6 linked regions of the Homo sapiens genome follow. The protein of the gene in region 5 purifies or fractionates together with the protein of the main gene of each other region. This does not show direct contact. Each region holds a gene or a part of one and is shown on either strand. Other genes may lie near its edges. The genes, in order: CPNE7, TANGO6, CAD, ZNG1A, VWA2 and NUDCD3.

Region 1 (3,500 bases), on a different chromosome or scaffold from region 5:
TACAAAGGTGTGATCTTGACTCACTGTAACCTCCGCCTCCCGGGTTCCAGTGATTCTCCTGCCTCAGCCTCCTGAGTAGCTGGGATTACAGGCATCTGCCACCACGCCCAGCTAATTTTTGTATTTTCAGTAGAGATGGGGTTTCACCATGTTGGCCAGGCTGGTCTCAAACTCCTGACCTCAGGTGATCCACCCGCCTCGGCCTCCCAAAATGCTGGGATTACAGGCATGAGCTACCGCGCCCGGCCCCTCACAGTCTGACAAACTCACAGTGCCCACCTCATGGTGCCCCGAGGCCTGACCTGGAGCCCAGGGGGGTGAGGGAAAACCGGCCGGGTGCACCTGTCATAGCTGACCTGGAGACCAGGGGGGTGAGGGGGAAGACGGCCAGGCGCACCTGTCATAGCTGACCTGGAGACCAGGGGGTGAGGGGAAGGTGGTGGGCGCACCTGTCATAGTCCTGGCAGATCTCGCCCACGGACACCAGTGCCTTCAGGTACTCGTTCGGCTGGTAGGGGTTGATGTAGTGCAGGGAGCAGCTGTTCCGCGGGTCTCCATTGGAGGCGGTGAAGTCAATGGCCACCTGCAGTGGGCCGGGAGCCAGGAGCTGTGCTGGGCCGGGGCTCCCCGAACCCGCTCCTGACAGGTAGAGAAACCACGCCCAGAGTGGCCAGGACTCAGGGTCAGGGGTCGCGTAGGTGGGTAGGGCTGGGGGGCTGCTGTTGGGGCTGACCCACCTGCTACACAGGGCCAGGAGAGGTCTCCTCAAAACCTGCCAGCCCCTAGGCTCCCTGGATCTCCGGGAGGACACCCCACCAGGATCACCCTGGCCTTGTGGGGGCCCCGCCCATCCTTCTTAGTGGCCGCCCAACCCCTCTACCACCCTCCCCGGCAGGGCCTAAGTGGACCAAGCCTGGTCTGGGTCCCCCCACGTTTCCCACTTGCTGGCTTCTCCCAAAGCCATTCTGGGGCTCGTTCAACAAAACACGAACCAGCGCATCTGCAAATAACACGCGGGTGACACGGGGGCCGTGTATCTGTGGGTGACACGCGGGTGACACGGGGGCCGTGTATCTGTGGGTGACACGCGGGTGACACGGGGGCCGTGTATCTGTGGGTGACACGCGGGTGACACGGGGGCCGTGTATCTGTGGGTGACACGGGGGCCGTGTATCTGTGGGTAACACGGGGGGCCGTGTATCTGTGGGTGACACGCGGGTGACACGGGGGGCCGTGTATCTGTGGGTAACACGGGGGGCCGTGTATCTGTGGGTGACACGGGGGCCGTGTATCTGTGGGTAACACGGGGGGCCGTGTATCTGTGGGTGACACGCGGGTGACACGGGGGCCGTGTATCTGTGGGTGACACGCGGGTGACACGGGGGGCCGTGTATCTGTGGGTAACACGGGGGCCGTGTATCTGTGGGTGACACGCGGGTGACACGGGGGGCCGTGTATCTGTGGGTGACACGGGGGCCGTGTTTCTGTGGGTGACACGCGGGTGACACGGGGGCCGTGTATCTGTGGGTGACACGGGGGTGCTATGGGGGTGACACGGGGTGTGCGTATCTATGGGTGACGCGGGGTCTGCGGGTGACATGGGGGTGACACGGGGTCTGTGCCGGGCTCCTTGGATGACACGTAGAGACTGTGGCTGGTTCACTCAAACGCTCACTCCAGTTTCTCCTCGTTCACGTTTTGTCTGTTGTTAAATGTGTTTGTGGAAGGTAAGCCCTGGTGATGTCACCTCCCAAGGCGGGCTTGGGGCTGCTTCCTGAACCCCAAGCCCGTTTCCTCGCCTGCGCAAAAGGGAGGACCCCCAGGAGCCGCGCATGGAGACATCGGCTCACGGGGAACCGCCAGTGCCCTTTCACCCGCCAGGCTGGGACCCCTCGGGAGCGGGGCGGGGGCGGGGGCGGGGGCGGGGCCACGGACTGAGGGGGCGGGGATGGGCGGGGCCACAGACTGAGGGGGCGGGGATGGGCGGGGCCACAGACTGAGGGGGCGGGAGGGGCGGGGCCACGGACTGAGGGGGCGGGGATGGGCGGGGCCACAGACTGAGGGGGCGGGGAGGGGCGGGGCCACGGACTGAGGGGGCGGGGCGGGGCGGGGCCACGGACTGAGGGGGCGGCATGGGGCGGGGCCATGGACTCACGGTGAAGTGGATCTGGCAGCCGCCCATGATATAGTCCAGGAAGGAGTACACCCTGTGGAACTTCCGGCCGGCGGAGTCAGCGTCCACCCCCGCCAGGGACACTGAGGCCAGTGCCAGCTGGGATCCAGGCCTGCCTCCCGCAGGCAGCCCAGTCCCTCTGGGGTGCCACCCTCCTCTCCTCTCCCCCATCCTCTCTCCCCAACCTCGCCCTTCCCCGTCTCTCAGCCCCTCCCCAGACGTGCTGGGGCCCACCAGGCCTCTGGTTGAGGGTCCATCCAACAATCAGAGGGAGGCAGCGGAAGCCCCTCTTGTGGGTGGGGAGGCTTCGGGCACAGCCACCTCTCACCTTGAGGTCAGCCAGGACGACCACTCCTGAGTTCTTATAACTGCGTCTCTTCTGCTTGTATTTGGGGTTCACACAGTCCCACTGGGCCTGGGGCAGGAACAAGCAGAGGCCCCCCAGAGTGGTGGCTCTGAACACCTACCAGGGAGACCCTACCCAAGACCATCCCCAATAGCGACGGCAGAGGGCCCCGTGGTGGGGAGGGGAGGGGAGGGCACTGCTGCAGGGCAGCAGGAAGGGGCAGAGTGGGTCATACGGGAATGAAGAGGGATGGGAGTTGCATCCCCCACCCGGCATGGCCCTGTCATTAAGCCCAAGGACACTGAGGCCCAGGGACGGGGGAGGAAGCAGGGCCCAGGGTGGCCTCCCCACTGCACCCTCACCCGGCTGCTGTGGGCTGGGCAGACACAGGGGAGGGCACCCCTTGGCCCCACCTCCCACCACCCCTGTGCCCAGACCCAGATGGTGCCTGAAATGTCCAGCTGAACCTGATGGGGGCCACCCCTGCTATGACCCCTCAGGAGCCAGCACCAGGGTCCACCATCCTCAGCCTTCTCTGGTTATAACAAGTCATTGTCACCACTCCCCACAACCCCATCAGGACAGTGGGACAGGGTTTCACAGCCTCTGTGGCAGGGCCAACACAGGCGTAGCCCAGGTGTGCCCCCGACTCACCTGCCCCTCCCCAGAGGCCCCCCTCACCTGCCCCTCCCTGAATGCCCCCTCCCCCTGCTAACTGCCCCTCCCTGGAGGCCCCCCTCACCTGAACCTCCCCAAAGGCCCCCCCAACCTGCTCCTCCCCAGAGGTGCCCACCCACATGCCCCTCCACGGAGGCCCCTACCCCACCCCCCACCTCCTCACCTGACACTTCCTGGAGGTACCCCCCCAGTCCTGCTCACCTACCCCTCCCCGAAGGCCCCCCTCCACCCCCACCTGACCCTCCCTGGAGGACCCCCTACCCCGTCCTGCTCACCTGCCCCTCCTCAAAGGCCTTCTGCATC
Region 2 (3,500 bases), on a different chromosome or scaffold from region 5:
GAGTAGCTGGGACTACAGGTGCCCACCACCACGCCTGGCTAATTTTTTGTATTTTTAGTAGAGACAGGGTTTCACCGTGTTAGCCAGGATGGTCTCGATCTCCTGACCTCATGATCTGCCCGCCTCGGCCTCCCAAAGTGCTGGGATTATAGGCGTGAGCCACCGCGCCCGGCCTAGAGGAAGGTTATTAGCCCCATCTTATATTTGCAGAAACAGAGGGTTAGAGGGTTGAGGTTACTCAGCTAAAAAAATGATGGAGCCAGGTTTCCAACATCCAGAGCCTGTGTTCTTATTTTTTATTTTTATTGAAAAGATAATACAGTACAAAAGAGTACATATTAAAAGGTAAGGCTCTGTTCTACTCCAGACTCCTAGCTGTTTCCCTTCTCAGAGGACATCATTCATATGAAGACATTTTCTAAGTGTTTACAAGCACACATGTGTATATTTCTGTTTCTTGTCCCCTCTCCCCCAGTTTTTTTAGACAGGGTCTCACTCTGTTGTCCAGGCTAAAGTACAGTAGTGCAATCATAGCTCACTGCAGCCTCAATCTCCTGGGCTCCAGCAATCCTCCATCTCAGCCTCCCAAGTTAGCTGGGACTACAGGCATACACCACCATGCTTGGCATTTTTATTTTTTTGCTATGTTGCCCAGGCTGGTCTTGAAATCCTGGGCTCAAGCAACCCTCCCACCTCAGAGGTAGGGATTACAGGCATGAGCCACCAAGCCCAGCCTTCCCTTACCTTTTTAAAGTACAAAATTATATTCTACGCTCTGTTGTGTACCATATTTTTTCCCCCACTTAACATGTTTTGTAGATCCTTTGTATAATTGGCACATATGGAAATAACTTATTTTTTATAGCTGCAGAGGATGAATGTAATGCAATTTATTTAACCATCTTTCCAATGAAAGTAATTTAAATTCTTTTTATCTTTTGCTATTGCAAATATTGCTGCAATAAACATTTTTTTGAAGATGGGGTCCTGCTATATTGCGCAGGCTGGTCTTGAACTCCTGGCCTCAAGTGATTCTCCCACCTCAGCCTCCTGAGTAGTCAAGATTAGAGGCATAAGCCACTGTGCCCAGTGCAATATGCATTCTGATACTTAGGTCATTACAGACATGTACAAGTATATCTGTAGGACAAATATCTAGAAATGGAATTTCTGGCTCAAAGGGTAATGCGCATTACAATTTTGATAGATATGGCCAGAGAGGTTCCAAGAATTTACATTTTCCTCAAACACTGTGAAAATTCCTGTTTCCCCATATTCTTATCAGTGCCATGTATTGTAAACTCCTTATTTTTGCTAATCCAGTAGAAAAAAATAGCATTTTGCTGTTATGAATTTGCATACTTCCAACAAATATATAAACATAAATTTGTATTTTTTTCTGGTATGTATAATTCAGCTTCTCCTTAATGATTCGTAAAAACTCCATTTTTTTTTAAGTCCATTATCTGTCATATGAGTTGCAAATATTTTTCTCCCAGTTGGCATTTTTTCTTTGTGAAATTTTTTATTCTGGTGAAGAAATTTCCATTTTTGATGTAGTTAAATTTATCAAATGTTTTCCTTTGTGGTTTCTGGATTTTGTGTTTTGCTTAAAAGAAATAGGGCCTATAATTTTAGCCATTATACTATGCGGTTTCTTTATTTTCTTTTATATTTATTTATTTATTTATTTATTTGTTTTTGAGACAGTTTTGCTCTTGTTGCCCAGGCTGGAGTGCAATGTGCGATCTCGGCTCACTGCAACCTCCGCCTCCCGGGTTCAAGCGATTCTCTTGCCTCAGCCTCCGGAGTAGGTGGGATTACAGGCATGCGCCACCATGCCCAGCTAATTTTGAATTTTTTAAAAAATAGAGACAGGGTTTTGCCATGTTGGTCAGGCTGGTTTTGCAATCCTGACCTCAGGTGATCCGCCCACCTTGGCCTCCCAAAGTGCTGGGATTACAGGCATGAGCCACTGCACCCAGCCTATATTTTATTTTTGAGACCAAGTCTCCCAGGCTGGAGTGCAGTAGCCGAGACGGGCAGATCACCTGAGCTCAGGAGTTCGAGACCAGCCTGGCGAACATGGCAAAACCCTGTCTCTACTAAAAATACACAAATTAGCTGGGCGTGGTGGTGCATGCCTGTAATGCCAGGCTGAGATAGGAGGCTGAGATGGGAGAATCACTGGAACCAAGGAGCTGGAGGTTGCAGTGAGCCAAGATTGCGCCACTGCACTCCAGCATGCGTGACAGAGCAAGACTCTGTCTCAAAAAATAAAAATAAAAATAAAATAAAATACAGAAACGTATATTTAACTTAGTCAACTCTACGCAAAGACTTTGTAAGGCCATTTAACAATGGAAACATCTAGATCTTGCCTTTAAAAGGCTTCTGGTCTAGTGGGGATGAATAAGAAGATAGTCACGTAAAGACAGACAATACAGAATAGAACATGGTAAAGGTCACAGGGAGCAGAGAGAGAGTGATGAGACATCAGAGAAAAGAGAGGCCACATTTTAGGAATAGGAAAGTTCACTGGAGATGGCGAATGGAAATGATGGGAAATAGTTAATTCAGCGGGTAACAAGCACATGGTCTGGGCCCAGAGTCCCCTGAGCATTCCACCAAGTAGACTGTGTCTAGCACCACGTGTCTTGGACTTGCTATAAGAAGAGAGCAAGAGCCTTTCCATCTTTCGATATTCCTGATCAGCATGGACACTGGGGAGTGAAGGCAGGAAGTCAGGGGAAAGGGCTACATAGAACAAGCTCCCCAGGCCGACCCTTCCCCACAGCGGGCCTCCCTCTGGCCGCCTGTGCTCCAGCTGTGCCGGCCTTCTTTCTTTTCTTGCCTGAACAAAGCTCCTCTCAAGGCCTTTGCATATGCTAGTCCCTCAGCCTGGGAGGCTATTAATATTTTGCTTCCTCTTCCTAGGACTCTTATACCCTTGGCCTCCGGGATTCTTTCCCTAACCCCCGCACCTAGGTAAGTCTTCCTGCCCTTCCCGGAGTTCTGTTTGTAGCCCCTATCAGGACTGTAATGTAAATATTTGTTGTGGGGCAGGCTGGTGGTATAAAAAATAAACAAATAAAAAATAAAATAAATATTTATTGTGTACTTTAAAAGGTTTTCCTCTCTAGATGGTAAGTACTATTGACACTGAGGCCATGTTTTGCCTTTTTTTCTTTTTTCTTTTTTGAGAAAGAGTCTCGCTCTGTTGCCCAGGCTTGAGTGCAGTGGCTCTATCTCAGCTCACTGCCAACCTCCGCCTCCTGGGTTCAAGCGATTCTTGTGCCTCAGCCTCCCGAGTAGCTGGGATTACAGGCACGTGCCACCACGCCCGGCTAATTTTTGTATTTTTAGTAGAGACAGGGTTTCACCATGTTGGCCAGGCTGGTCTTGAACTCCTGACCTGAAGTGATCCACCCATCTCAGCCTCCCAAAGTGCTGGGTGGGATTACAGGCGTGAGCCACCATGCCTGGCAGCCTTGCCTTTT
Region 3 (3,500 bases), on a different chromosome or scaffold from region 5:
ATGGGGATATATTCCAGTATCCCCATGCCCGTTTTAGGCATATTGATTCCATATTCATCAATAAGCACAAAGCCTGAGCTTATCCATGAAAATAGCAGGGAAAAGAGCTATAAGTTAAGATTTCTTTTTGTTTGTTTGTTTGTTTTGTTTTGTTTGAGACGGAGTCTCGCTTTGTTCCCCGGGCTGGAGTGCAATGGTGTGATCGCTGCTCACTGCAAGCTCCACCTCCCGGGTTCACGCCATTTTCCTGCCTCAGCCTCTGGAGTAGCTGGGGCTACAGGCGCCCGCCACCACTCCCGGCTAATTTTTTTGTATTTTTAGTAGAGACGGGGTTTCACCATGTTAGCCAGGATGGTCTCGATCTCCTGACCTCGTGATCCTTCCGCCTCAGCCTCCCAAAGTGCTGGGATTACAGGCGTGAGCCACTGCGCCCGGCCATTAAGATTTCTTAGTTGTGAAACACCATGAATCCCACCATCATGTGACTTGCCTTGAGAATCTCCCAGAGTCTTGACTATAAACCATAAGCATTATGGGCAGTGCCTTCTTCCCACCCCTTCCACCTCCACACCTTCATTCCTTCCATTCTGTTCTTCCAGGTGAAGTCATGGGCATTGGGCGTTCATTTGAGGAGGCCTTCCAGAAGGCCCTGCGCATGGTGGATGAGAACTGTGTGGGCTTTGATCACACAGTGAAACCAGTCAGCGATATGGTAAGTAGCTCCCCTCCCCTGGCAATACCCCTAAAATAGACCCTGCTTCTCATCGCCCCCAGACCATGAGCTTGTTACCAGTAACACTAGCAGCAGTCATCATTGGACATTTGCTTTGTTTCCACTTTGCTGAGAATTTTGAGATGTCTCATTAGCACGCAAGGGTGTATTACTAGACTTGTTTTTACAGATGAGGAAACTGAGACATAGGTTATAGAAATTACTCAAAGCCACATAGCCAATGAGAGGTAGACCCAGGATTGGTATCCAGGTTTTTGCAGTTACACAGCCTGTGCTCTGGTGTACAGTTTCCCCTTCCTGAGACAAGAGCAGCTACTTACGCTCAGGCTTTTAGATGGGCTGGCAGTAGCTTCCGTCTGTCTACCCCCTTTCTATCAGGAGTTGGAGACTCCAACAGATAAGCGGATTTTTGTGGTGGCAGCTGCTTTGTGGGCTGGTTATTCAGTGGACCGCCTGTATGAGCTCACACGCATCGACCGCTGGTTCCTGCACCGAATGAAGCGTATCATCGCACATGCCCAGCTGCTAGAACAACACCGTGGACAGCCTTTGCCGCCAGACCTGCTGCAACAGGCCAAGTGTCTTGGCTTCTCAGACAAACAGATTGCCCTTGCAGTTCTGAGGTCAGAGGTGGCAATGAGAGCTTCCGGCTGGGAAATGTGGGGCAGAACCTTTGTATCAGTGAGGGACCCTTGGGAGGGAGGAAGGAGAGTGTGGGAGAGCTTTAGAGGCTTCTGACCTTGGTTCCAAGGATATTTCCTCTCATCTGTGCCCTGGGGTCTCAACCCTCTATCAGTCTGTACCCTACTCTCTGGGCCTGTGTTTCAGACCCTTTTTCTATTTTAGCACAGAGCTGGCTGTTCGCAAGCTGCGTCAGGAACTGGGGATCTGTCCAGCAGTGAAACAGATTGACACAGTTGCAGCTGAGTGGCCAGCCCAGACAAATTACCTATACCTAACGTATTGGGGCACCACCCATGACCTCACCTTTCGAACACCTCATGTCCTAGTCCTTGGCTCTGGCGTCTACCGTATTGGCTCTAGCGTTGAATTTGACTGGTGTGCTGTAGGCTGCATCCAGCAGCTCCGAAAGGTCAGAGAGTTCATTTTCTTTCCACTTTCCTTGCTATTCTGTTCATCTCTAGCAATTGCTTGGCACTAATCCTGGCATTTCCTATTAATTGCCGTCCCTTACTTTGGTCATAGAGCTTTGGGGTGGGGGTCCTTTTAGGCCATCTCTCATGCCCCACACGGTATATGAATCTCTTCCCCAACACTTTGTACCTCCTTCCCTCCCAAGGCAGGGGTCCTGTACAGCTCTTTCAGAGGAAGCTGTGCTGGCAGTCTCTGAAGTAGGGGCTTTGGCTTAGTTTCTCCACGATTTTCTCCACGATTTTCCTCCCACCTGACTGCTAAGTACCCTTCCCCTCCCTCTTGCAGATGGGATATAAGACCATCATGGTGAACTATAACCCAGAGACAGTCAGCACCGACTATGACATGTGTGATCGACTCTACTTTGATGAGATCTCTTTTGAGGTGAGGGAGATGGAGGCTTCCTGGTAGCTTGAGTGGCCAGGGTCGAGTAGAACAGCTGGCTGACCTAAGATTCTTTGAAACTTGGTGGCGGCTGAGGGAAGCAGTGAGCAGGAAGGCTCAGATTCCTGCCCTCTTTTGCTGCCACCACTTGTTTCTCCCCCTGCAACGTAGGTGGTGATGGACATCTATGAGCTCGAGAACCCTGAAGGTGTGATCCTATCCATGGGTGGACAGCTGCCCAACAACATGGCCATGGCGTTGCATCGGCAGCAGTGCCGGGTGCTGGGCACCTCCCCTGAAGCCATTGACTCGGCTGAGAACCGTTTCAAGTTTTCCCGGCTCCTTGACACCATTGGTATCAGCCAGCCTCAGTGGAGGGAGCTCAGTGACCTCGAGGTGGGCTGGGACCTGGTGGGTTACCCGGAGGCTGGATGATGCTTGGGGGAAAGTGTGAACAACTCAGCTAAGCTCCCTGCCTCCTGTAGTCTGCTCGCCAATTCTGCCAGACCGTGGGGTACCCCTGTGTGGTGCGCCCCTCCTATGTGCTGAGCGGTGCTGCTATGAATGTGGCCTACACGGATGGAGACCTGGAGCGCTTCCTGAGCAGCGCAGCAGCCGTCTCCAAAGAGCATCCCGTGGTCATCTCCAAGTTCATCCAGGAGGCTAAGGTGGGAGGCTGCAGACAGTGAAGTCTCTGAGGGCATGCTGCCAGCCCTGGAGGAGACTTCCTTCTCTGGTCCAGCAGAATCATAGGCACCAGGGCTGGGAACAGTGGGCTATGTGGGGCTCGTTAAAGGAAGAGACAATCCTAGAGTAAGTGAGAGAAGAAAGTGGCCCTATGTCCCACTGTCTGTGTCCCCCCGCTAGGAGATTGACGTGGATGCCGTGGCCTCTGATGGTGTGGTGGCAGCCATCGCCATCTCTGAGCATGTGGAGAATGCAGGTGTGCATTCAGGTGATGCGACGCTGGTGACCCCCCCACAAGATATCACTGCCAAAACCCTGGAGCGGATCAAAGCCATTGTGCATGCTGTGGGCCAGGAGCTACAGGTCACAGGACCCTTCAATCTGCAGCTCATTGCCAAGGTAATAAGGCTAAAGGAAAGAACTAAAGGGCCACAGCTCTTGCATGTTCTGTGCTGGCCACAGTGCCATGAAGCCCTGCACTGTCTCCTGCCTTCATCCAAGTAGGCAGGGAAGCTGGAGGGAAAGGGCTGTAGCTAGAGCT
Region 4 (3,500 bases), on a different chromosome or scaffold from region 5:
GATGTTTTAGGAACAGAACCTAGAGAAAATGAAAGTCAAAATTTAATAAAAGAATTTGTCAGGAACTTCAAGGTAAAGACTCCATGTATTTTTTGGCAACTATAAAACACTAAGAAGGCTTTTTAAATATTAAAAAGCCATTTAAACACTTCAAATTAAGATTCCTCAATATACTTCAGATTTCTGTACTGAGTTACCCTCTCGAGTGTTTGGAAGTCTTTTCTTCCTCATTAAGCAAACACTTACACAGTGTTATCATGGCTTTGTATTCTTAGTTTTGAAGACAGGCAAATGTACTAGCCAAATATGCCAAACTAACTTATTAAGAGCATTCCAAACAACATTTTGGATCCAATTCTTTTTAAATGCACTTAGATCTTTCTTATATTAGAATCAAGCATATTTGTCAATTATTTAATGTTTATTATTAATAACTAAAATGATTTGTTATTAATAGGAATAGCTTTTTTAAAGTACCTTGATCTTTGTGTTTCTAAGATTTGTCCTAGTCCATTTATGGATCTGAAATAAATAATAAATGAGGAAGACAAAGTTTAAAAGTAAAAATTAACTTTTTAAAAAAGTATACAAAGTATATTGTTTCTAAAACAGGAAATAAGCATACCCAAATACATCTGGAACCAGAAAAAAATTAAAAACAGAAAAACAAAACTTGCTTTAAAAAATAATTGTGATTTTCCTTCAAACAATAAATCACATATATTCCACTCATACATTAATAAAACATATATGCAAAAATTCGCACAACTGTCAGATTAAGGGCTACTTTGTGGTTAATAAAAAGACACTTCACTTTAGAAAAAATCATTCATAAATAGTCAGTTATCCTAGTGTTCTTAAAAATGAGTAGATACTCAAAATTTTTACGGTGGTCACTTTTTTCCTCAGGCATACATGGTAGAAATGGCTATATACACACTAAAAATAAAAACCTAGTTGCAAGTTGCTTTGCCCCCAGCCTGTCCTTAGTATTCACAGTAATTCTAAGTCACACATCCCAGGTTCCTTTATAGAATAACCTCGTCAGTTACCTAATTAGGCTCTCTACCCGTTATGCCTGTTCTCCCTCTTTTGATACTATAGAATATGGCTTCGTATGGCACCAAAAAGTACCTGTTAAATTCTTTTCAACACACTGTACACCTCATCTATTTATCTTTTCCATTGCCTATCATCAATCATCAATTCTCTATCATGAATTCAATTGTCTTTAGGGTTACTTACCCAAGATTCTTGCTACTTGTTCAAGTTTGTTCTCATGGGTAAGGCTTCCCACATATAATGATTCTGAGGCAAGTCTCTCCACTATTTTACAAAATTCTTAAATCTTCTTTTTTGAATACACTCTAGTCTGATGGCTAATTCCTCTCAAACATGTTTACCTTTTTTCACCTCCCCAAATATCATTCTGAGTCAGTCACAAGTCTGATATAAAGGGAGGGTAAAAGCCAAAAGGGTGTGTAATTTATCAAATTGCTTCTTCCAAATTCATTTCTAGTACTGTTAACAAGCTGGCTAATAGTCAATATTGTCAGTGTCAGAGATTTAGCTTAGGTCTCTATAAGGATATAAAAGTCAAGTAATAATTATCATTCCTTTTATGCCAAAAACATTTGCTAAATAGATTGTGTTCTTCTTAGCAATCACAATGGTGCACAAGATTTATGAAGAGAAACAAGATTAGAAGACCAGTGTCAAAAAATGTAAAAGCAATCTTCATTCATCACTTTCTCCTTTTCAAAATCAGCCATCTTTTTCTTTCTTCCCTTTTTTACTATACCTTGAACTTACTATGTAAGCTAAGAAAAAAATTACATAATAATAGCTAACAGAGCACTTACTATGTGTCAGCACTGTGCAAAGTTTACCAACATTGTCTCATGTAATACTCAAAGCAAACTTATGATAGGCATTATGCCTTTTACAGAGGAGGCTTTAAAAGGGTAAATAAGCTCCCTAAGAAGACAATGAGAAACAGACCAAGGATTAGAACCCAAGCAGATTCCAAGGTCTGTGATCTTCAACACTACGCAACAATACCTACCCTCCACGTGGAGACATTATATTTTTTTATAGTAAAGTTTAAGGACATTACTATTAAAATAAGATGAAATATGTGGAAAAAATATGAATTTCTTTCTTCCACAATCATTAATCATGGCAAATAATCTCCTAATGAGCCTTACCTTTATTGATTCAATTGATAATATATACTATATGAACTGAGATGACAGATTCAAAATCTAATGTCAGTAGAACTTATAAATACTAAGAATAGTAATTTTGAGCCATCACGCTCAAAGCATTGTACACATTAAAGATAACCAATACTAATAGCTACCGAATGTCTCTCTGTATAGGGCTTTTATTAGTTCAGGTCTTACAAAATAATTCAAAACAAAGCCCCTGAACTATAACCTCATTTGAAAAGCCCATCTTTGTTTTCAAAAGGAATGGGAGTCTCCAGAACAGTCAGCAAAATGACTGTTAGCACATATTTGAGCATCATTCATATTGTCCTGATTGTCCTATGCTGATCAGCCTTGGCTATGGACAAAGAAGATATTAAAGCAAGCTGGAAGACAAGGCATGGTTGACAGTTAAGGAAGATGAAGTCAACAAGAGTTCAGGGAAAACTGAGACCACTTGAGTCAGGGAAGACTTCACATAGGAAGGGGGGAGAGACAGAATAGGCTCTATAGAATAAATTAAAAAAAAAAAAAGCAGAACAAGAAAGAACTCAGGGATTGGCAGAGTGAGAATACATTACGAGTAAAGACAGGAACTGACAGGATGCATCCATGGGAAAGTGAATTAACCATCCTGGGTAAAGTTAGGGAAGACTGACATTAGGAAAGAGTCAAAGAGAAGACAGGAAAAGAAAGATGGAGTGCGAAGACCCTGAATATCAGTCTATTAACTGTGAACTATATTCTGCAAGCACTGGGGACTAATTTTATGTATTACCATTTATATAACAATTAGCCATCAACAATATATGTGATTCCCTAACGTTCTTGAAGCAGCTCAACCTTATACCTTAAGTTTCTACAGGGCAACAATCAGAGTAAAAAATATTCTGTGTATACAACATGGATCTGTAGGCACTTAACACACTTATCATTTCGTACCTAATTGTCGTTCTTAATTTCTTTACATCTTCTTCTGGAACCAGGTCTGTTTTATTAATGAGAATGGCATCTGCCAAAGCAACTTGTCTAAAATAGCAAACAGAGAAATGTTAAGAAACTTTAAATAATATACACGCATGCAGATTAATACATCAAAAGAGGAATGTTAACAAATCAAAAATAAATAAAAACGCCTCATGTAGATCAATATATCAGTTAAGAATTATCTAGTGCTCTATAGGAGTGACTCAGTTTACTCCTAATCCGCTAATTTTTCAATGTGGATGAATTGTGTTCATTACTATGCAAGTTCAGATTTCACATTACCCATTCGCAAAGTATTTACTA
Region 5 (3,500 bases):
TTTTGAGACAAGGTCTTGCTCTGTCACCAGGATGGAGTACAGTGGCAGAATCATGGCTTGGTGCAGCCTCAAACTTCCAGGCTCAAGTGATCCTCCCATTTCAGCCTCCTAAGTAGTTGGGACTACAGACACGCACCACCGTGGCCGGCTAATTTTTAAGATTTTTTTTTATAGATGGGGTCTCACTATGTTGCCCGGGCTGGTCTTAAACTCCTGAGCTCAATTCCTGCCTCCGCCTTTCATAGTGCTGGGATTACAGGCGTGAGCTACCACGCCCAGCCTTGGCAACCTTTATTTCAGCAACTCCATGAGCTCTGAATTGACTTGGCGTGTACTCCATTTTACCCCAGGGAAGACCCTGCCCTAGAGGAGCACCTGATTGGCCTGCCCCTGTGTGGGCAGCCCAGGGTGGGATCTTGTTGGAAGAAGCCTTATTTGGAGAACTTTAGGGAATGTTTCTGCCAAGGCCCAAGAGTCTCCTCAGGTGAGGCCATCCCAGGAGCTGCTGCCAACCCAGAGTGGGGCTTTCTGCCCCCAGATGAGGAACCGCTCCTGTGACAGCAGGGCACATGGCCCCGGAGACGCAGGAGAGGCGAGGGTGAGGCCCACAGGGTAGAGTGGGGGGATTTGGAGTCATGGTCAGGGTTTGGATCCCAGCTCTGCTGTGTTCCGGTAATTATGTGACCTCAGGGGCCCTAAGTGAGCCCTCAGAACCCATTTCCCTATCTGGAACATGGAGGGAACCATCTCTTCAGGTAGCTGTGGTTCATGGAACACCAGCAGGTGGAAGCCACCCAAGGAATGGTGGCTGCTGTGTTATCACAGAACGTTAGTTCTCCAGCAGACCTGAGAAGTCATTGAGTCCAGTGGCTTACATGTCTTGACCTGCAGAGCCTCGTGTGGACACTTGTTGTGTGGACCAGATAGTAGCAGCACACCTGGGGTGGAGGGGCGGGGCTGGGGCACTGCGGGAGGCCTGGAGCCTTGCTCCTTCAGTGCTCTTCTCTCCCCATCGAAGCTTTAAGGAATACAGTTGAAAAGTGAAGATAGAATTACTATACAAAGAGGAAAGTGAAGACCAGAGGAGGAAAGTAACATGTCTGTGGTCACACAGCCAAAATCCAGTTGCCCAGTTCCCAATATTTCTCTCCCTACTGCATCGTAAGCCTCAGAAAGTAACTTATAATAAAAAGCTGTTGCTACAGTTTGGGGTTTTGCATGTGGATGTCCCTAATTTCAAATGTGATAGCCAGCTTATGTTACCTTTTTTTTTTGAGATGGAGTCTTACTCTGTTACCCAGGCTGGAGTGCAGTTGTGCAATCTCGGCTCACCGCAACCTCTGCCTCCTGGGTTCAAGCATTTCTGCCTCAGCCTGCTAAGCTGGGATTACAGGCACATGCCACCACGCCCAGCTAATTTTTGTATTTTTAGTAGAGACGGGGCTTCACCATGTAGGCCAGGCTAGTCTCAAACTCCTGACCTCAAGTGATTTGCCTACCTTGGCCTCCCAAAGTGTTGGGATTGCAGGCGTGAGCCACCACTCCCAGCCTATTTTTTTTAATTGTCACTGGATAGTTTGAAACATTCCCTACTCTATGTGCAGAGAAAAGTTAGGGTAGAATCAAGAAACAAAACCAGGAAGTCTTTCTTACTTCTGCATTGGAATCTTCTATCAGCTTTTGGTGTTGTAAATCATCTTCTGTTTTCTGCCCTCCCCTTACACCTCTGATCTGTCTATAATTCTGTTTCCTTGGATTGTAGCTGGAAGAGAGTGTTCCTAACCCACCCTGCCACCTGCTACAGGACCACCTGCCCAGGTATGGTCTGTCTCTTGGATTTACAGGTTCTTTCAGGGCCCTGGGCCCAGGCTGCTTTGTAAAGTGGCTTTTACAATCCTGGGACAGAGGGTGGGGTTGTGACTGGCTCCAGGGCAGAGGGATGGGGCACTTGGGGGGCAGAGGAGAGTGTGCTCTTGACTCCCTCAATGGTGTTTGCTCATTAAGAATGGAGTGGCGGCTTTGGGATTACTCCCCTGAACCAGTGTTGTGTGCATTGGTGAGAGGCAGAGAGGCAGGCACCGAGCACCAGCTTTGCAGACATCCTCAAAGCCAGCACCAAACTCAGGGCAAGATATCTGAGTGATTTCCTCCTCTATAAAACATAGTGGTTTGTCCGATGTCTGGAAGCCCATTTCCCTCCTCCATGTGAAAGGGGGTCATCGTATATGAGGTCCTAGTGAAGATTCAGTAGATAATGCCCATGGAAGTAATCCCTCAGCTGTAAAATCCCAAATTAACGTGAGGAATCATCGATGCCATTATGCATCATTCAGCATGGTTCACCAGTGTGCCCTCACTATCCCTCACTTGGGGTGCTAGTGACCCCACTGACCTGGGAGCTTGAAATTGCCCTTCAATGTGTAGGTGTCAGTCCTGGGGTGGATTTGTTACTCCCGATGAGTAGCCTGTCTCCCGGAAGCAATGCCGGCAGTTAGACACACAGGCAGGGCAGCGAGCAGTTAGACACACAGGCAGGCAGGGCAGCGAGCAGTTAGACACACAGGCAGGGTAGCGAGCAGTTAGACACACAGGCAGGGTAGCGAGCAGTTAGACACACAGGCAGGGTAGCGAGCAGTTAGACACACAGGCAGGGTAGCGAGTGTCCCTATTTGGGGTTAGGTGATCCCTTCAGTATGTTCACAAGGTTTACAGTTCCAGCACCACGGCCTCTGAAGCACAGGAGAATCTGAGAGTGGAGCTGTTTCTGCTCAGAAATTAGGGTTTGAGGACTTCCGGTTTGGAAACTAGAGTGAAATGGCTTTCAGTCCCAGCTTTGCCTCTTACCAATGATCTGACCTGGGGCATGTGACTTCTATTCATTGAGCTTCAGCTTCCTCATCTGTCATATAGGGTTTTTATAGTTCCTACCTAAGGTTGTGACAATGAAATGGGACCATGCGTGTATTGTGCTTAGCACAGTCCCTGGCACATAATAGATGCTCAGTTAAAGGCCACTGTCGTCGATCTCAGTGAGCCCCCAGCTATTTCCACAGTCTTCTGGCTGATACAACAGCAGCCCCAGCGAAGTGCCTAGACTTAGCCTCAATCTTTTCTGCCTTTGAAAAGTCTATATTTTAATTACAATGATGTGGCCATCAAGAAAGAGATTAATATTTGTAAGCAAAAAGGACAAGAAAATGCCAGTCCCAGTTGTGACCACACTCAGCTGCTTATCCAGCTCTTGGAATACATGATCACATGAAGACCTTGTTTGTTTTCTGTAACCCTGGGAAGGAGGTCATGTGGTTTTAGCTGCACTTTGTAATAATTGATAAGGAAAGCAATGAGATGCTCAGGCATGGACCACAGGGAATCATAGATCAGACGCTTCAGAATGGGCCACATTTTGACACAGGCTGTGGTTTCCCATGTAAACTTTCAGCTTTGAAGAGGCCTTGCTCATAATTTGCATCTCACATCCAAAAGTCAATACTGTCATT
Region 6 (3,500 bases), on a different chromosome or scaffold from region 5:
ATTCACTCTCTTCCCTCCTTGATAGGATGGGTCACCTGTGTGCCCCCAAATCCCTGCCACCTTGAGTTCTCTTCTGTTTTTCTCACTCCTTTACTCTCTTTCTGACGTGTTTTGGGGGAGATTGTGTGTGTGCGTGCACACTTTTTAATAGAGACCGGATCTTACTCTGTTGGCCAGGCTGGAGTGCAGTGGTGTGATCATAGCGCAATATATGAATTGAACTCTTGGGCTCCAGCAATCCTCTCGCCTCAGCCTCCTGAGTAGCTGGGACCATAGGCATGCACCACCACATCTGGTTAATTTTGTAATTTTTTGTAGAGATGTCTGCCACTATACCTGGCTAAATTTTAAAAATATTTTCTTGCTGTATTGCCTAGGCTGTGGGGGAGTTTTTGTTTTTTTTTCTAGTTAATGAAGCAAAGTGAACAACTTGGAATGGCTTATAAAATATGGAGTAAGAGAAAATAAGTTTTGTAAAGACAGGAGGGGCAAGATTGCAGAGTCTTAAAGTCCAGGCTAACTAATGGAGTTCGAAGAAAACAATTGTTTGATGGCAGAACCAAGCTGATGGAGAAGGGGAGCAGCTCTTGAATATGGAGCTCTGGATGAGAAGGGGTGAAATAAGGATTTAGAGATTGGAAGTGGGGAGTATAGGGTGGAAGGCAGACATCTGATATTTCCTTGCAGATCTTTTTAAAATATTTTTTATAGTGCAGATCTGCTGATAGTGAATTCTTTCAGCTTTTTTGTCTGAAAATGCCTTTATTTCATCTTCCATTTCTGAGGATATTTTTGCTGGATATAGAATTGCAGGTTGACACTTTTTTTTTGTTTTTGTTTTTCTTCAAACATTTTAAAGACTATCATTCCATTGTCTTCTAGCTTGCACTGTCTCTGATGAGAAGTGAGTAGACATTCTTTGTTCCCCTGTGTGTGAAATATCCCCATTCTCTTGTTATATCAGTTCCTTGAAGTTATTATCATTAGTTTGAGCAATTTGATTAAGATTTACTCATGCATGATAGTCCTTGTGTTTATACTATTGGGAGACTTTTGAGCACACACACACATACACACACACACACACACACTTAGGAGGTCTGTTTTCTCTTTGTCCTTCCTTTGGAATATTTTCTGTTGACCTGTCTTCAACTTTACTGTCTTTTCTCCTTTGGTGTCTAATCTGTAGTTAAACTCATCTAGTAACTTCTTAATTTCAGATAGTTTATTTTTTAGCCCTGCAGGTTCCCCTTGATTGTTTTTTATGGCTTCAATTTCTACCTTGGTTTTCCTTTAAATCCTTCAATATACTTACAATAGTTTAAAGTCTTTATCTGCTAATTCCATTATCTCTGTGATTTCTTGGTTTGTTTCTAGGGATTGAGTTTTCTCCTGATTTTGGGTTACATTTTCTTTTTCTTTCAAATGTCTGATAATTTTTTATTGGATGCTAGACATTAATGGATGTTATGCTGTCGAGTCTCTGGGTTTTGATTTCTTCTGTTGAGTGTTGAGTTTTGTTCTTGCAGGCAATTAATTTATTTGCTGATCAGAATGATCTTTTTGAAGCTTGTTTTTTATTTGTATTGATTGATCAATTGATTGTAGAGATGGAGTCTTAATATGTTACCCAGGCTAATCTCGAACTCCTGGTCCCAAATGATCTTCCCACCTTTGCTTACCAAAGTGCTGGGATTATAGGTGTGCACCAATGTGTCTGGCCTTGTTTTTCAGCTTTGTTAAGCTGTATCTAGGGTACTTTTATTTTAAAGCTAGCTTAGTCTTCTAAGACATGCCTTTTTGGGGCTTCTGAGTGCTCCAGCTGTTAGTGAGGTCTTTCCATTCTGACTGGTTGAGGCTTGAACGTCTCCCAGCTCTAGGGATTGTCCATGTCAGTTACCCAGGTTTCCTACTTGTCTCATGGAGTTGCACTTTACACATGTGCAGTTTTGTATTCAGCCAAAGACTCAAGGGGATCCTATGAGGTTTTTTGGAGTTCTTTCTATGCGCAGCCTCCTTACTAGTAGTCTTTCTGTAAAATAATCAGATGTAAGAATGAAGATTTAATATACAAAGTTGTTTGTCATAGTCCACTTAGGCTGCTATAACAAAATAATATAGCCTGGGTGGCTTATAGACTACATAAATTTATTGCTCACAGTTCTGGATACTGGAAGTCTAAGGTCAAGGTACTGGCAGATTCAGTGTCTGGTGAGGGCCCACATTCTGATTCGTAGTTACCTTGCTGTGTCCTCAAATGGTGGAAGAGGTGAGAGAACTCTCTCAAATCTTTTATGAGGGCACTAATTCCAGTCATGAAGGCAGAGCCCTGATCACCTCCCAAAGTACTCATCCCAATATCTTGGGATTAAGATTTACCGTAGGAATTTTGGGACACAAACATTCAGTCTATAGCATTGTTCACTTCAGTTCTATTTATTCCAACATTACTTATATTAGCAAAATTTTGGAAGAATGCTGAATTTCTGTAGTAAGGGAATGGAGAAATACATTTATAAAATGCTTTTAAAGACTACTGACATGGTTATTGTGATGGTCAGTTTCATTTGTCAGTTTGGCTAAGTTACAGTCCTGGTTATTCAGTCAAACACTCATCTTGGCATGGCTGTCAAGGTATTTTGTGGATGTGATGCAAGTTAATAATTGGTTGACTTTAAGTAAGGGTGATTGTCCTAGGTGATCTGAGTGGGCCTGATCTATCAGCTGAAAGCCTGAAGAGCGCAGCAGAGCTCCCCTGAAGTAGAAGAAATTTCTCCGATGGACAGCAGCTGCACTCAGTTTCTGGAGAGTTCCACATTGGCCTGCTATGTGGATTTCAGACTGGCCTAGCCAGCCCCCACAATCATGTAAGCCAATTTCTTGCAGTAACTCTCTTAATAAATACACTTATCCCTTGGTATCTGCAGGGGATTGGTTCCTGGTCCCTCGTGGATACCAAAATTCATGGATGTCTAGGTCTCTTATATAAAACAGTATAATATTTGTGTATAACCTATGCACATTCTCCCATAGACTTTAAATTATGTCTAGATTACTTACAATCCCTAATACAATGTAAATGCTATGTAAATAGTTGTTACACTGTATTATTTGGGGAATAATGACAAGAAGTTTGTACATGTTCAGCACAGACAAAACAATCCATTTTTTTTTTTTTTCAAATTTTTGGATTTTTTTTTTTTTTTTTTTTTTTTTTGATACTGGGTCTTGCTCTGTTGCCCATACTGGAATGCAGTGACATGATCTTGGCTCACTGCAGCCTCTGCCTTCTGAGCTCAAGCGAGCCTCCCACCTCAGCCTCCCAAGTAGCTGGGACTACAGGCGTGCACCACCTTGCCCAGCTGATTTTTGTATTTTTTGTAGAGATAGGGTCTTACCATGTTGCCCAGGCTGGTGTCGAACTGGTGAGCTCAAGTGATCCACTCGCCTCAGCCTCGTAAAGTGCTGGGATTATAGGTGTGAGGCACCATGCCTGGCCA

The links.
Region 1: the proteins of VWA2 (region 5) and CPNE7 purify together in Homo sapiens (affinity purification with mass spectrometry; one large-scale study listed by BioGRID and IntAct). This does not show direct contact.
Region 2: the proteins of VWA2 (region 5) and TANGO6 purify together in Homo sapiens (affinity purification with mass spectrometry; one large-scale study listed by BioGRID and IntAct). This does not show direct contact.
Region 3: the proteins of VWA2 (region 5) and CAD purify together in Homo sapiens (affinity purification with mass spectrometry; one large-scale study listed by BioGRID and IntAct). This does not show direct contact.
Region 4: the proteins of VWA2 (region 5) and ZNG1A purify together in Homo sapiens (affinity purification with mass spectrometry; one large-scale study listed by BioGRID and IntAct). This does not show direct contact.
Region 6: the proteins of VWA2 (region 5) and NUDCD3 purify together in Homo sapiens (affinity purification with mass spectrometry; one large-scale study listed by BioGRID and IntAct). This does not show direct contact.

What each region holds. Positions count from the first base shown.
Region 1 is NC_000016.10:89,585,758-89,589,257, reverse strand, and holds part of CPNE7 (copine-7), read right to left. Parts: coding exon 3,473-3,500; intron 2,589-3,472; coding exon 2,502-2,588; intron 2,216-2,501; coding exon 2,156-2,215; intron 1,703-2,155; coding exon of another isoform or gene 1,664-1,702; exon of another isoform or gene 584-1,663; coding exon 450-583; intron 1-449. UniProt on the Homo sapiens protein: Calcium-dependent phospholipid-binding protein that may play a role in calcium-mediated intracellular processes.
Region 2 is NC_000016.10:69,077,531-69,081,030, reverse strand, and holds part of TANGO6 (transport and Golgi organization protein 6 homolog), read right to left. Parts: intron 1-3,500.
Region 3 is NC_000002.12:27,230,869-27,234,368, forward strand, and holds part of CAD (multifunctional protein CAD), read left to right. Parts: intron 1-599; coding exon 600-712; intron 713-1,111; coding exon 1,112-1,356; intron 1,357-1,579; coding exon 1,580-1,826; intron 1,827-2,173; coding exon 2,174-2,272; intron 2,273-2,443; coding exon 2,444-2,668; intron 2,669-2,757; coding exon 2,758-2,940; intron 2,941-3,139; coding exon 3,140-3,358; intron 3,359-3,500. UniProt on the Homo sapiens protein: Multifunctional protein that encodes the first 3 enzymatic activities of the de novo pyrimidine pathway: carbamoylphosphate synthetase (CPSase; EC 6.3.5.5), aspartate transcarbamylase (ATCase; EC 2.1.3.2) and dihydroorotase (DHOase; EC 3.5.2.3).
Region 4 is NC_000009.12:151,557-155,056, forward strand, and holds part of ZNG1A (zinc-regulated GTPase metalloprotein activator 1A), read right to left. Parts: intron 3,240-3,500; coding exon 3,153-3,239; intron 523-3,152; coding exon 478-522; intron 1-477. UniProt on the Homo sapiens protein: Zinc chaperone that directly transfers zinc cofactor to target metalloproteins, thereby activating them.
Region 5 is NC_000010.11:114,280,754-114,284,253, forward strand, and holds part of VWA2 (von Willebrand factor A domain-containing protein 2 precursor), read left to right. Parts: exon of another isoform or gene 1-871; coding exon of another isoform or gene 872-1,018; intron 1,019-1,759; exon of another isoform or gene 1,760-1,762; coding exon 1,763-1,818; intron 1,819-3,500. Other genes in the region: AFAP1L2 (actin filament-associated protein 1-like 2), read right to left, coding at 872-1,018.
Region 6 is NC_000007.14:44,480,659-44,484,158, reverse strand, and holds part of NUDCD3 (nudC domain-containing protein 3), read left to right. Parts: intron 1-3,500.